Regions from separate parts of the Homo sapiens genome. Here region 2 is linked to region 1. Evidence: fine-mapped expression QTL. Tissue or cell type: whole blood. Region 1 holds a variant in brackets; the other region holds the start of a gene. All regions are shown on one strand. Distances are from middle to middle.

What was found. PIP is the estimated chance that this variant, and not a neighbour inherited with it, causes the effect.
Region 2: it holds the start of SLC41A3, and the variant in region 1 is fine-mapped to the expression of SLC41A3 in whole blood (TOPMed, PIP above 0.99). The same link has a PIP of 0.9 or more in blood mononuclear cells.

What each region holds. Positions count from the first base shown.
Region 1 is chr3:125,970,602-125,978,300 of GRCh38, forward strand. It overlaps ROPN1B (rhophilin associated tail protein 1B), which reads left to right. Exons shown (of 7, transcript NM_001308313.2): 2 at 516-561; 3 at 1,442-1,569; 4 at 4,962-5,079; 5 at 6,403-6,564. The coding sequence starts at 1,454. It also overlaps the pseudogene ALG1L1P. Among named protein-coding and RNA genes, the nearest start is that of ROPN1B, 5.3 kb to the left of the region's middle. The variant A/G (reference allele first, on the strand shown) is at 4,119.
Region 2 is chr3:126,080,637-126,087,625 of GRCh38, forward strand. SLC41A3 (solute carrier family 41 member 3) reads right to left here and starts at 3,488. Exons shown (of 11, transcript NM_017836.4): 1 at 3,457-3,488. It overlaps ALDH1L1-AS1 (ALDH1L1 antisense RNA 1), which reads left to right and starts at 3,579. Exons shown (of 8, transcript NR_190231.1): 1 at 3,579-3,816. RefSeq lists silencers at 3,136-3,245, 3,286-3,835.

The sequences.
Region 1 (7,699 bases):
CCCCTCTCCGAGAAACACCCAAGAATGATCAATAAATACTAAAAAAATTTTAAAAAATCCTTTTTTCCTCTGTACAGATTTAGTGGTTATTACTGTTAAAACTTTTCTAATACTTTGCAAAGTCTAAAATTAATCATTATTTTATCATCCTTTTCCTCCAAATAAAAGAACATAAATAAAGTAAAAGGTCATGAAGTCCCACCAATCTAAGACCACTTTAGTTTCTTGTCTTGGGATTTCCGAGCCATGCTGGTGTTGGTATAAATGGAAAACTTAGAACTAGTCTGTGGCTACCAACTCCTGGGGGACTGTTTCTCTCCTGACTAGAAGCAGCAATGGAGACAGGTTTCTTTGTTGCTTACCCCAGCCTGTAGGCAGATATTTTCAGCCACACCTTTTCACGCTGAGGGTGTAGTCCCTGGGCGGGTCTCAAGTTTAGGTCAGAAGGGGAGTCCTTTAGTCCAGACATTTGCCTTTTGTGAGCCTAATCCTTGGTCTCTATCCACCCTGCCTAGCAATTTATCTCAAAGCTTCAAGTTCCTGCCATCTACATGTGCCCAGGTGAGCCCTAGTTTCTTCATTTGCCCAGCACTGCGGGTTCCCCTTTCCTCACCTCATTGGCCACTGGAAGATTTCTCTCACTTCACTGCAAGCCCAGCAAGGCAATGTGAAAGGCTTGTACTGAGATTTGTCTGGCCTCTAGGTGTTTTGAAGAGGGACAGCTTTTTAGCATATCTAGTCTGTCCCTTTCTCTACTAAAAGCAGAAAAAAATCTTTTGATCTGTTGTTTATTTGTGGATGGAATTGTATATATTTTATGGATGTTCATGTTTTGTTTCAATTTGTCCTGGAACTTTTTGAGAGAAAATGTACGAGTTTTCCGCCTGACAATTAGAGTTGAAAAAACATGCAGCTATAAACAGAGACGCTCATCAAATGGCTGTTTAATGACTATTTTTATATGGAAATAACCTAATGTTAATTCATAGAGGGTTCAGAGTAAATTTTGCTACAATTCTTACCTAGCTAATAAGAGCTGGATGACATGCAAAGATGTTCATGATATACTTTTGAGTAAATAAGCTGTTTTGCATAATCTTATTTTTTTGTTTTACAAACATATATATTTATACTGAAAAATTCTGGAAGGAGACATCCAATATTTTAGGGTGATACCATTAGGGATTTTTTTGTTGACTTCCACTTTTTAAATAAAAAAGGACTGTGTAATTTTTACGTAAAGGATATAACTATTTACAACAAAAAGTAGGGGTTAGCAGACGGCTTTCTAACCTTGCCGTTGTGTAACAATAGAATGCATTTGTCTTGCGGAGTCCCCAAAATTGAGTGTCAAACAGAGGCTGGGTGACCTCCTGTCCAGGATTGCTCTCATCTTATGAGTCCAAGTTTTCATCTTATGTATTTTTTCTCCTGAGAATAGGTCAACCAATCAATGGCTCAGACAGATAAGCCAACATGCATCCCGCCGGAGCTGCCGAAAATGCTGAAGGAGTTTGCCAAAGCCGCCATTCGGGCGCAGCCGCAGGACCTCATCCAGTGGGGGGCCGAGTACGTGCTCCTTTCTCGCCTTCATCTCTTGGAGGACGGGCGGGGAGAGAGGGTCCTGTAAAACCGCGGAGGTTGTCATGGCTGCAGCCAGGGGGTCGGGACTAACTGGCATCGTCTTTGTTTTAGCTCTTGCATTGCTTTGATGCTTTAAAATCCACACATAAATACTACATCTAGCCGGGCAAGGATGGGATGCCTCCCCTAAGCGAGCCAGATTGAGCAGTAGGACGCCAGGTCAATAGGCCGTGTCCTGGGGCAAGCAGCAAGTTAGATGACCGCGTCACACCAGCGTATGCACACCCACCTCCTCCCTGCACGCCTTTTCCCACTCTCGGTGGAAAGAAGGGCTGGGAATCTCCGCAGCTTAATCTGCCTTTCTTCATTCTCCTGTCTCACCACTAGATGGCAGCAGTGCAGCCGGGGGAGGGAAGCGACAGCCCTGGGTGGATGGGGTGGGACCAGTCCTGCTAGTTCACTCCTTTAAGGAGACACTTCCTCCCCTGCTGTTAAAACTCATACTTGGACCCAACCAAAGAGGCTTTGTATCTTTGAGGAAATTATTGTTATTTTCTTTGGTGTTTCTCTGAACTGATTTGTTCTGCCAACATAATGATGTCCTCACAGTACACACTGCATTCTGGGGAAAGGCCAGGCAGAGTGATGGGGTCCTCAGGCATGGCTGAAAACAGTGTGCCTCAAACACGGGTGCCTTCTTTCAGGAGAGACCTCCAGAGGCTGCTCAGTAGATGGAGCTTACACAACAATCGCTGCGGGCCTGGATTGAAGTAGCTTTGCACAGAAAGCCTCTCAGCTATGAAATTGCTCCTTGGACAAACTTGCCTGCTTGAAACTGGGGAACCAGGACTTGAGACAGGAGTTGGAAGATAACTAGACCTCACGGACCATTTTCAGGCTATTTTTACTGTTTGATGATTCCCTGCTTAGGAGGGTTTCAGTGGGAAAGTGAGAGTGAGAGAGGCCGTTGAGAGAAAGCCAGTGAGTTGGGGAAGGGAAGATGTCCTCAGGCTGAGGTTGTGAGTGGGTGTCCTGGGCAGATGGTGGGGAGAGTGTGGACACCTTTGAGAAGACACAAAATGGCACCTAAGAGGGGCCTTTCGGAGTCTCTGGGCCAGTGTTGTGCTCCTGGTCTGGATTAGGATGCAGCTTTTACAATTGGAAGGAAAATAGGCCAGTGGTGCTCATAAAAAGAAACATAAATGGGGGTTGCTTTGCCTAGTAATAAGCCCTGTTTAGTTTTCCATTCTAAATTTTATATATTGCCTCTAAGATTGAACTTTAGCTTCAGAAGACTAATTTATTTTGGCATAGTCAGATAGACAGACTTTATCTTATACGTTAGTTTCAAACCCATTTGATTGTTCTTGTGCTGCCGTTTTATAGTAAGCAAAATGACATTGCTTAGTATTGTCCCTGACATTTATGGAAGAGGCATTCCACTATTGTAGACTGCTTGCTCTCGTATTGTATCACGTGCTATAATTTTTTTAGACATCCATGAAAACTTAGTTTGTAGTTTAACCACAATGAAAAAGGAGGGCATGACCTAAGAGCCCCCTCCATTCTATCCAGACATGAAAAGCACTGCTCAGATGGTTGTATGTGACTTACTTAAAACCTGTAGCATTTTAGAGAATAAAACTCTGCAAAGTGTTTCCAAGACAAAATACGTTTTTAATCCATTGCAAGTAAGAATTTCCCTACATATGTGTTGTCAATGAAGAAACCTCTTACCAGGTATTGGCAGGACATATACTTATTTGTCCTCTGGTAGGCATGTGTTACAACTCAAATTTGCAATATATGTGTATAACCATGGACCTGATCACTTGCAAATGAAGCTCAATAACCCAAAGAATGAAATCCATGATTACAGCTTTGCTTCCATGTTGTCTAACCAATTCCACAAGAAGTCCAGAGATGTTGCTGCTGAGTGTTACTCTACCCGGGCAGCACTTCTGTGGAATGAGGTGCTGTGTGTCTCTGTCCCTCCCATTTATACCACCCAAGTCTGGAAGTCTGGTTTATAAAGCCTGAGTCCACACCCTGCTCCTGTTGTCACAGTGCACCCACACCCCGCCCACCCCAACACTGATCTGTGTGCAGAGATTTCTCAAGCACATTGTTAAAGGTGCCCTTCCTGCTGATGACCTCCAAGTGGTGACCGGCAGTTACTCCTTTAGTCCATGTAGCTTTCACTCTGCCTTGCTATGTGGCTTAGAGACAGGCAATCGTTAGCCCATCATTGTATGGCTTGACCCTAAAGTGGGCTTTTACAAAATTCCCTCTATATTATTTTCATACTACCTGGATCTGGAGGAAGTAATGGAGGGAAAAAAGCAGGGCGGAACAGAAATTTGTGGTTCATGGATCGTCAATAACCAGGCTTTTGATGGAGACAGACCCTGCCATGCTGCTTTGGTGACCCACATGTCAGCGGCTCATGTCCATTCCCTGCTGCAGGCAGCCTCTTTTCATCTTATGCCAGTCCTGAAACAGAACTCAGTACTTGTTCCACAATGCCCCCAAAC[A/G]AAGTCCACTCCACAAAACATTGAGGAGCAGGCAGATTTCACTGAAAATTTTGAGGGAAGATGGAGAAACAGTTTTATTTTACAGGCACCATATAGCTTAAGGTTGTCTCAAACCTTCTTTGGCTTCTCTTCTCTCCTGAGCCTTGCACAGTGCCCTGCCAACCCTCTCTCCCTTCCCTCTTGAAGCCCCAAGCCTCACTACATACGGCCAGAAATCCTTCCTGATTCACCCCAGGATGCTTCCATCTCTTCCCTTTCCTCCTTTTTCATTTCTTCAGAGATGGGGGTCTTACTCTGTCACCCAGTCTGGAGTGTAGTGGCACAATTATAGTTCGCTGCCTCCTCAAACTCCTGGGCTCAGTGGTCCTCCAGGCTCAGGCTCTGCAGTTGCCAGATTACAGGCCGTAGCCACCATTCCTGTGCTGCCTTCCCCTTTCTTACGTACATTACTTTTTAGTTCTCTTCCAACTTCTCTTCCCAAGATTATATATACACATGTAACATATATCTGTGTGTATAAAACATTCAGAGATGACTGGAAAAAAACCCTGAACCCAATATGCTCCAGGGAATTGCATACCCAAACTTTTCTTGGTTCTTCCTCATCCTTAGAGAAGAACAAAGCTTTGTATTCTCTAAGCATTCTCTGTGCCCTAAGTGGAGAGTAACACATTCAGACTTTTCCCATATGTAAGTGAACTAAACACAATGACACATAGAAGCCACTTTACAAAGGTTCCTTTCTCTACCTCCTTCCCTCAGAAGAAGGGGGAAGGATTGCTAGAACAGCCAGAGGCCACTGGTGTATAGGATCCTCCTACTCTCTGACTTTTTTTCTTGTAGTTATTTTGAGGCCCTGTCCCGTGGAGAGACGCCTCCGGTGAGAGAGCGGTCTGAGCGAGTCGCTTTGTGTAACTGGGCAGAGCTAACACCTGAGCTGTTAAAGATCCTGCATTCTCAGGTAAGGGCCCTGCTGCAGCATTGAGGAGAATGTAGGGACAGTGTTGAGGCTGGGTGGGTACAGACGAAAGCCCTCTGTTCTCCTGCCAGTCAGCTGACCACTTAGCACCACCCTAAAATACACTAAACCGTGGACTGAAAGTAAATCTTCCCTTGGGGAAATGGGAATAATTTTGAAATAGGCTGCAGGCTGAGTCATTGGTGGGGTCATCCCAGATTTCCTTGAAGCTGGCAGAATGTACAGGGGCTCAATGCAATGCTAATCTTGTCTCTCCAGAAAAGTGCAGGTCCTCAGTCACTCGACAGTGTCTCCTTACTGATCAAGACCATAATATGATGCCAATCACAGTTTGGGGAAGGGCATATTTTAGCTCCCCAGTTATCCCAGGTCCAGACATTGCTTTTAGCTTTTAGGGAGAGGCTGTGAGCCTCTTCATAGCCACATCATCCTGGGAGCTGCCTGGTGAATGAATGCATGAGGAGGGTCCGGCTTGAGAAAGTTTGTGGTTTGGCCAATTCCCAGGAAATATGGTTGAGCACCACCAAACCCTGCTTTATGATCCAGGACAGAGCGGTTTGGGGTGATTTAGGACTGGCTTGGCTAACCACCTTGGTCCCAGAGGCTTAGCATTTCACTAGAATCAGACAGTCAGGAAAGGTGTTGGAGCACTTCATCGGGCATCTGTGCTCTTGTTGCATTGGTGGCCAACAACCAGTCATCTTCTCTCCTTTTGTCCACCAAGCACCTTGTGCAGTGAACATGACAGAGCTCTAAAATACCTGGGATCAAGTAACATTAGGCAGCCAGATCAAATCCCCGTGGGTCAGCCACATACCCCATATCATTCCTGGGAAAGCATGAGGGATGCACTTGAGGTCTAGAGCTAAGAACTCAGTGCAATCGGGAAGAAACAGACCTATGTCTTGTTCTAATTTTACCGTTAATTAGTGGTCTCAGGTAAGCCCTCTACCCCTTGGTTTTGTTTTCAGGCTCTTCTATCTGTCATATAAGGAATAAAACAATTTAGGAATACAATAGCAGATAAAAGCATCACCAGAAATTAAAATGTAATATAAATGTATATCTTTTGCATAATTCTGACACCTAAAGTTTGACAATTAATAAATTATATTTCAGCATGCTCTTCACTAGGATTTGCAAAGGTAACTGCCACACAGAGCCATCTTTACCTTCCTAACACCCCCTCCCGCCCCTTGCCATGTGCTGGGAGATGTGGACCTGGCCTGGGGACAGGGTGTTTCTCAGGGCCTTGTCTCAACTTCTCCCACAACCTCTGTGTTGTGTCTGTCCCCTGCCCTGCAGGTTGCTGGCAGACTGATCATCCGTGCAGAGGAGCTGGCCCAGATGTGGAAAGTGGTGAATCTCCCAACAGATCTGTTTAATAGTGTGATGAATGTGGGTCGCTTCACGGAGGAGATCGAGTGGCTGAAGTTTTTAGCCCTTGCTTGCAGCGCTCTGGGAGTTGTAAGTTAGCTTGACTGTTTTTTGTTCCTGAAGGGGAAATCTCCCTCTGGGCCTGGAAGGGCAGTGCATCTATACACGCGGTCAACTCTGCAGGGCTGATGATAAACATGCCTCTTCTCCTATTGTCCTTCTCCTCTCTAAAGCAAGGTCATTTCTGTGCTCGTCAGGCAGTGGCAGGGGTTGGGAGGAGGAGAGAGGGAAACACTGTGGTCAGGCTCTGGGGAGAGTTGACTACAGTGTAGCTCTTGGATTATTTATGAATATTGCCCTCAGATTTATTTTCACTCTGCTCCTTCCATTCATATTCCCAGAGACAACCAAGAGCCGACTGTAGAAAAAGACTTCCAGACACCTAGAATATATATCAATAGACACTGTTTAAAAGGGGTACAATCTTATAGAAAACTATGTAATAAACAGAATTGGATGCAGAACTCAGACATAAGAAAGCAAAAACAAAGAGAGATGAGGCTATTTCTGAATTTAGTCATGACATCTCCATGGATACAGGATGTTCATACAGATTTATGCCTTTTCCAAATTTGACTTGTTTGATATTGGAAAAACAATTTTACTGTTTTGAAGCCAAAGATGTTGAAATCAGTTTATATGTATAGATATTTAAAGCTTGGGTATCTTATATGTGGACTTACATTGTTAAACATTGTTAAAATAAAATGAATCAAAAACATGGTTTTTAAAAAGAATCCCTGAGATACATAAAAGTTTGAAAATTATTGAGAAAATAATTGCCTCTGCCAAAAACAAATGGTATGAAAAGGTAGTCTGAATCATTCAGCATATCTAAACATAATCTTGTTCTTCTCAAATATGCTTGGAATGCATATTTGACACGTTTGTTTCTGAGAAAATTTAGCAGAAATATTGTAGTCCAACTTTTCCTATAGCTTCCCCTACAATGTTTATCATTGCTTTAAAGAGAAGTGAACAAGAGGACATTTGTGGCTTTTTTTCTTCATTGTCCTTTATAGCATTTATTACTGAATAAATCACTATCCTCTGAGGAGGAAAGGAAAGTAAGCAGCAGAGGCCTATGAGTTGTCAATCAGGACGGGAAAATCACAAACGGGAAGATAAAAAAATGAACACATTTTATTAAATTTTCATAGGTTTA
Region 2 (6,989 bases), 110 kb after region 1:
CAGTATGGAAGTTCCTTTAAAAACTAAAAGCAAGCCAGATGCAGTGGCTCAAGCCTGTAATCCCAGCACTTTGGGAGGCCAAGGTGGGAGAATAACTTGAGGCCAGGAGCTTGAGACCAGCCTGGCCAACATGCCAAAACCCCATCTCTACTAAAATACAAAAAATTAGCTGGGTGTGGTGACACACGCCTGTAGTTCCAGCTACTTGGGAGGCTGAGGCATGAGAGTCACTTGAACCCAGGAGGTGGAGGTTGTGGTGAGCTGAGATTGTGCCACTGCACTCTAGCCTGGGCAACAGAGCGAGATTCCATCTCTGAAAAAAAAAAACAAACTAAAAACAGAACTACCATATGATCCGGCAATCCCACTAATGGGTACATATCCAAAAGAAAGGAAACCAGGATATTGAAGAGATATCTGTACCCCATGTTTCTTGCAGCACTATTCACAATAGCTAAGATATGGATCAACCTAAGTTTCCATACCAGATGAAAGGATAAAGAAGATGCGGTACATATACACAATGGAGTACTATTCAGCCATAAAGAAGAATGAGATCCTGTCATCTGCAACAATATAGATGGAACTGGAGGTCATTACATTCAGTGAAATAAGCCGTGGACAGAAAGACAAACATCACATGGCCTCACTCATATGTGAGCGCTGAAGGAGGGGATCTCAAGGAGGTAGAAAGTTCAATGGTTACCAAAGCCTGTGGCGGGACAGGGGGAAAAAGGGAGGATGGTTAATGGCTAGAAATACACAGTTTGATGGAAGAAATAAGAAATCGTGTTTGATGAATCAATACAGTGACTATAGTTTACAATAATCTATTTTATATTTCGGAATAGCTAGAATTCAAATGTTTCTGGAATAAAAGACCAATCTCTAAAATGATGGATGTCTATATTGCACTGATTTGATCTTTACAAGTTACATGAACGTGTTAAATTATCACAGGCAACTCAAAAATATGTACATCTATTATGTGTCAATAAAATTTTTTTAATATAAATAAATGAACCTGGTGTGATGCACCTCACCTCACCACCACTAGGGCAAGGGGTGGGGAGAAGGGCCTGGAACACAGCCACAGGGCTCTGGGTCTGCCTCTGCCAGAGGCAACTGGGCAGTGACCACTCCAGGCCACACATCCTCACTCAGCCACAGTCTTGGTGAGTCACTCACACGCGTGCCTGAGGAGGTTAACCCAAGAGTGCGCAGCCACTGTGCTTGGTGACAGCAAACACCAGAGCGGCAGGTGCTGGCGCAGCCCTGATCCGTGATTCATGCTGGGAACACGTGTGCAGCTGTACCTAGAGAGCCCCAGCCCTGGTCCACCCTCACTGTGCCTGCACATGGTGCCAGAGGAAGGCCTGGCCAGGGTGACCCGGGAGCAGGGCCCAGCTGGTGTCAGCACCACACCTGCTCTGTGCCCCTTGCAGGGTGGGGGATCTCCCAGCTGTGGACATGGCCAAAGGCCCCTCAGCTCCACCTGAATGTTGGAGTGTTTGCAAGGAGAACATGCTCCAATGTCCCTGTGTCACTGACAGCTCGTGCAGATGAACAACCAAGCACAGGCTGGAGGAGGCTCCTGTGGGAAAGTGGGCTGTGGGCCAGGAAACCTCTAATCCCAGAGCCCCAGGGAGGAGCCAAGATGCCAGAAGATGCCAGTGGAGGCATTGCCTCCAAGGTCCCCACAGAGGACATTGGGCAATGTCTGCACATGGTTTTGGTTGTCCCGACAGGGGGTGATACAGGACAGCCCCCCAAAACAAAGAACTGCCCCACCCCAAATGTCAGTAGTGTGGAGGCCGAGAAACCCTGCTATGGGGCAGTGGTCAGAGACCCTTGTGCCTTGAAAGGGGCTAGGCTGGGCAGGACAGGTTGTGGACCACCTGGGGCCACAGTTCAGAGCCACGCCTGAGTCTGTGAGGCTGCCCACCCTCCCAGCTGCCAGCATGGGGTTGGGGGGTATCCGCCCCCATCAGACTGAGGAGGAAACGGACACTCTGTCACCCAGAAGCATCCCTGTGTCACCCTGTGAGGTTGGCCTTGGACCCAGGCCTCTAGGCGCCCCGTCAGCACCCCAGTGCGAACACATCCTGCCCGGGGACCTGGACCCAGCAGCTCACACAGACCAGGGCTCGCCCAAAGGCAGGCAGGCAGGGCCACTGCTGACCACGCACCTGGCTGGTCGTGATTCTGGAACTAATGGTTTCTGCCTGGCAGGGAGGCCGCCAGGACCTCTGGGCTTCACCCCTCCCCACCTTCACAGGGGACCTCGCCTCAGTGGGAATGTTCTGGAGCCGGAACCCAAGGTTGGAATCCCAGCTCCTCCCCTTTCTAGGTCTGTGACCTTGGAAAAATTAAACTTTCTGTACCTCTGTTGCCTAATCTGTGAAATGGGGTAATACTACCTACTGTGTAGGGCTGTGAAGATTAAATGGAGTCATGCATTATCATCACAGGGCACCTGGCCCATCCTCAACCCCAGTTCAGACTCCTCAAAGCCCTAAGGTTTCAGATCAATGGTCAGAACCACGAGGAGGACCTGCTAAAGACAAGTATGGGGACCCACCCCCAAGGTTTAGGATTTAGAAGGTCAGGGTGGGGCTGGGGAACCCGCATTTCTAGCAGATCTCAGGAAAGGCAGTGCTGCTGGTCCTGGGACCACAGTTTGAAAACCACTGGTGTAAAAAAAGCCTTCTAAAAAAAAGTGGGATTTGATCACTAAAGTCATATGGAAAAAACTGGAAGAAAGAGGAAAAAATAAACAAATAAATAACGGGATTTTAAAGAGACCTATCCCACCGGCTCTCCTGGATGGAGAGAGTGTGGGACTCTGAGACAGACTCCCGGCTGGGCACCCCCAGGAGGTTTTCTTCACCAGAGGTTTGCACCGAGCCCACCCAGGACAGTGGGCTGAGCCTGTGGTAGAGGCTGGCGGGAGGTCTGGCTGAGGCAGCGAGGGGTCCCTGCGCGCGGGCGCTGCAGGAGTCACGCGTGTGACATCCAACCAGGAGCCGTGCCCTGAGCAGGCCAGGAAGGAGGAGACAGGGCCGCTGAATGCACACCGCAGCGGTGTGGGGAGCGGCCTCAGACACCTAAGGGTAGGACCGGCCGGCTCCCCCGCGACCCCCAGCGCCTGGGTTCTCTCCCGGCCTCCCCGAGGCGTGGCCTACCCCAGGCATGGCCCCACCCCGCCCCAGGCCGCCCCTCCGACCCCTCGTGTTTACCTCATCTCCCGCGCGCCTTTCCCCCACCGAGTCCCCCAAATCCCGGTCCCCACCTGACTCCCCCTCCCGCCGAGCCCCCAGGGCCCGGCGCCCGGCTCACTCGCCTCCCGCGCACCCACTCCCGGGCGCCCTCTCCCGCGCGCCTCCCCGACCCCCCTTGGGCCCCAGCTGACCCCACCTTCCGCCCCAACCCCGCCCGGAACAGGGCCGCGCTTACCGGGTCCCCTCCCAGGCGGCGGCGGGAAAGAGGCGGGCGGAGGACGCAGGGGCGGGCCTGCGGCTCAGGCAGGAAGCGGGAAGGCCGGGCCTCCCTGGCCCCGCCCCGGCCGGGCGGCCGGACCTCGGACGACTTGGCGCTCCGGGACAGCAGCAGACGCCCAAGCTCCGGCAGCGCAGAGCCCCGCCGGGGGCCCGGGGGGCTGGGAGCCGGGGATCGCGGGGACGGAAGTGGGGGACCGAGTCTCGCGAGCCCGGGCCCTCCTCGCAGCTGGGGCCCCACTGGCGCCCCCGCGGGAGCGCTACGGGAGAGGCGCCTATGCGGCTGCAGGTTTTATTATGGAGCTGTCAAGGTAGAAAGGTACGGAGAACGGGAACCCACCGACAGCCAACTTCCCTTGGGACCCGCCTTTTGCTTTAAAAACAACAACGACAAGTCTGTGCTTCACCCCACACATGCCTTTCGTTTTCCCTTTTTTCCCAGAGTAATTTTAAAGCATCCCAGTGGATAAATTCTCCTTTAAATACTCGAGTATGTTTAATCAGTAAGGCCTATTTTTTTAAACATTCTCATAGTATTACGGTCACACCTAACGAAATTGGCAATTCCCAGTCCGGGCCTGAGGGAGGCCTGATGGTTCACAAGACTTGGTAAAATATATCATTATATTTTAAACCAAAAAATAAATGATAAGGCACCTCCCCGTTCCCAACCACCAAATCATCCGAATGGACTTCTTCCTCAGCCAGGACTTTTAGAATTTAACCTGAAAAACTGGTTCAGGCCATAAGGGGAAGTGGAGGCCGAACATGCCTCATTATCCCTCTCCTGCATTAACATCAACACAGACTTTAAGTCTGATAAGAAACATTTTACAGCCTCTTCTCTCTGAAGCCTGCTACCCTATCCGAATACTTCATCTGCGTGATAAAACACATTGGTCTCCACAACCTCTTAACCCAGACATTCCTTTCTTTAATCCCAGGTCTTTGGACAAACTCAACCAATTGTCAACCAGAAAATGTTTAAGTTGACCTATACCCTAGAACCACCCTCCCCCTCTTTGAGTTTTCCTGCCTTTCTGGATCAAACAAATTTATTTCTTAAATGAACTTAACTTGAAGTCTCATGCCTCCTCAGAATGTATTAAACCAAGCTGCACCCCGACCTCCTTGGGCACATGTTCTCAAGACCTCCTGAAGGCTGTGTCACTGGCTGTGGTCACTCATATTTGGCTCACAATAAATCTCTTCAAATATTTTACAGAGTTTGACTCTTCCACAATAATTTGGCACCCAGCGTGGGGCCTCAGAGAAGACTCAGGACCCCAAAGGAGTTGCCTGAACTCGGAGCGAAGATACCAGTGGGGCCCATTGAAGCCTCCCAGACTTCTAGCTTCTCCCCCGATGGAACTGGTTAAGTTCTCCTGAGCCCCAGATCGCCCTTTGGTTGACAGTCCTTCGTTTAGTGTGAGCTGGTTTTTCTCCTAGGAAGTTGTTGTTTAAGGATTCTAATTCTAGTTCAGAGACACATTCTAAAGGGTTTTCTTTATTGCTTTTTCTCCCAAAATTAATCTTGATTCGGCTTGTCTGCGCATTTGTGTGAGGAATTGAACTGTTGTTTTCATAGGTAAATGAGAGACTGAGTTTTCTCAACTCCAAAGAGAAAGGCATTTGCTCCTCCCAGCCAAAACGTGCTCCTGGGTGACTGGGGGCCTTGTGGGAGTGTCTGGGGGGGGGTTGACATCCTGTGACATGCAGCAGCCCTATGGGGAAATCCCCAACAAAAATTAATTTTAAAAATGGCTTGTCCAGGAATGCATATAAGGACTGATCACCCATCATTTTGAGCCCTCTCAAAGGTAATAGACCTCTGGAGAGAGAAACTGAGACATGTAACAGGGTGGAAACAACTCAGTGGTGACACATGGTGGGGTCCTGCCCACAAGCAGCACACATTGATCCACCACACAAAAACCCTAGGCCACAGCTCAGTTCCTACTTCTAAGAAAAAAAAAGGTGGGAAACAAATGATCTAAGAATGAGGAGAAAACAAGGAGAATGACCTCATTTCGGGCACTCTGTTGGTTTTATGGTGCGTCTACTTGCCAGAGCTTATGTAAAATGGAAATATAATGATCCTTGTGCACATTTACATTAAGGAAAAGAGCCCTAAGGTCAACCTGTACACTATAGAGTTCCTAAGTTCTCTTCTTCTCTATATTTTCTGCCTGCTTTAAATCTGCTTTTACTTTTGTACTGAAATTAAAAACCACTGTTTGGATCTAACCTATTTTTCTTTTTCTTTGTTTTCTTGTTTTTTTTTTTTTTTTTTTTTTTTTTTTTGCAAGCTGGGGAATTTGTATTTATCTCATGGCTAAAGTTCTGAAGTAAAAGCTATAGGATCTGTGTGTGTGTGTGTGTGTGTGTGTGTGTGTGTGTGTGTGTATTTAAAAGGATTTTATAATAGACTTCTATAATTTTGTTTAAATGGCAAATTAAATCCATTTTAATTTCCCTCTAGCAAACCAGACTGTCTCTTGGTACTTTGAGATGTAAATTTTGCTATCTGATTTTTCACCTAAGAGTTGTTTCCTTTAATATGCAAATGTAGGACTATTTAGCTGACAACTGCCCAGGGTGATGAAACAGGCTATCATGAATTTAAAAGTCTAAGGGAAAAAGAGGTCTTACAAATACATAAGATGTACTTCTATTGCCATGCCTAATACGCTATGCATTTATGTGTTGTGTACACAATGTGTCACTACTAAAAATATGTAAAAGAGCTCTAATTAGCTTAAGTAAAAATAAAAGCACTTAAATACTTGATCAAAAAATACTAATCAATGCTTTTCAAGTTCACGTGACAAGTAAAATATTTAATAAATAAACTGTCTTTAAAATCATTGGTAAAAAAAATTAAAATGTTCTAAGAATTGTTAGTATTTTTGTTTGCATTTATTGATCAAGTAGCTTCATGCTTATTCCTTCAGAATACTATAAGATTAGCCATAGGGTTATAAAACTATAAAACCCAGCCCAAGACAGAATGATCTTTGCTTGTATAATTTTTGATAAATAAGACATGGAATATGGTTGGTTTAATGAAAACAGCTAAATCATGAGTTACTGGAAAAAATACTCTTATATTTAATCATAAGTTCATTATTGAAGTAAACACCTGAAATTCACAGCTATAAAAATGGTTAACAGGGAAATAACTTCAATAATGACTGTCACAGTTTTTGTTAATAATCCAGGTAAACAAATAAATTAATCAGGTAAAGGTAATGGAATAAGTGTTTGTAAACAAACGTCATATAATTTAGGACCTCAGGTTATTAATAAGTATTAAGTATCTGGGTAATTTCCAATTTAAAAATTATAGAAAAACTTTTTTTTAAATGGTAAATATCTTTTTCTAATTCAAAGCTTATTTAAAGGTTATGTATAAAACAAGGTAAAAGGAACTAGGAAATAAGAGATGTAGAGAAACATAAGACATAAAGAGGTAATTTTTGGTAAAGAAGG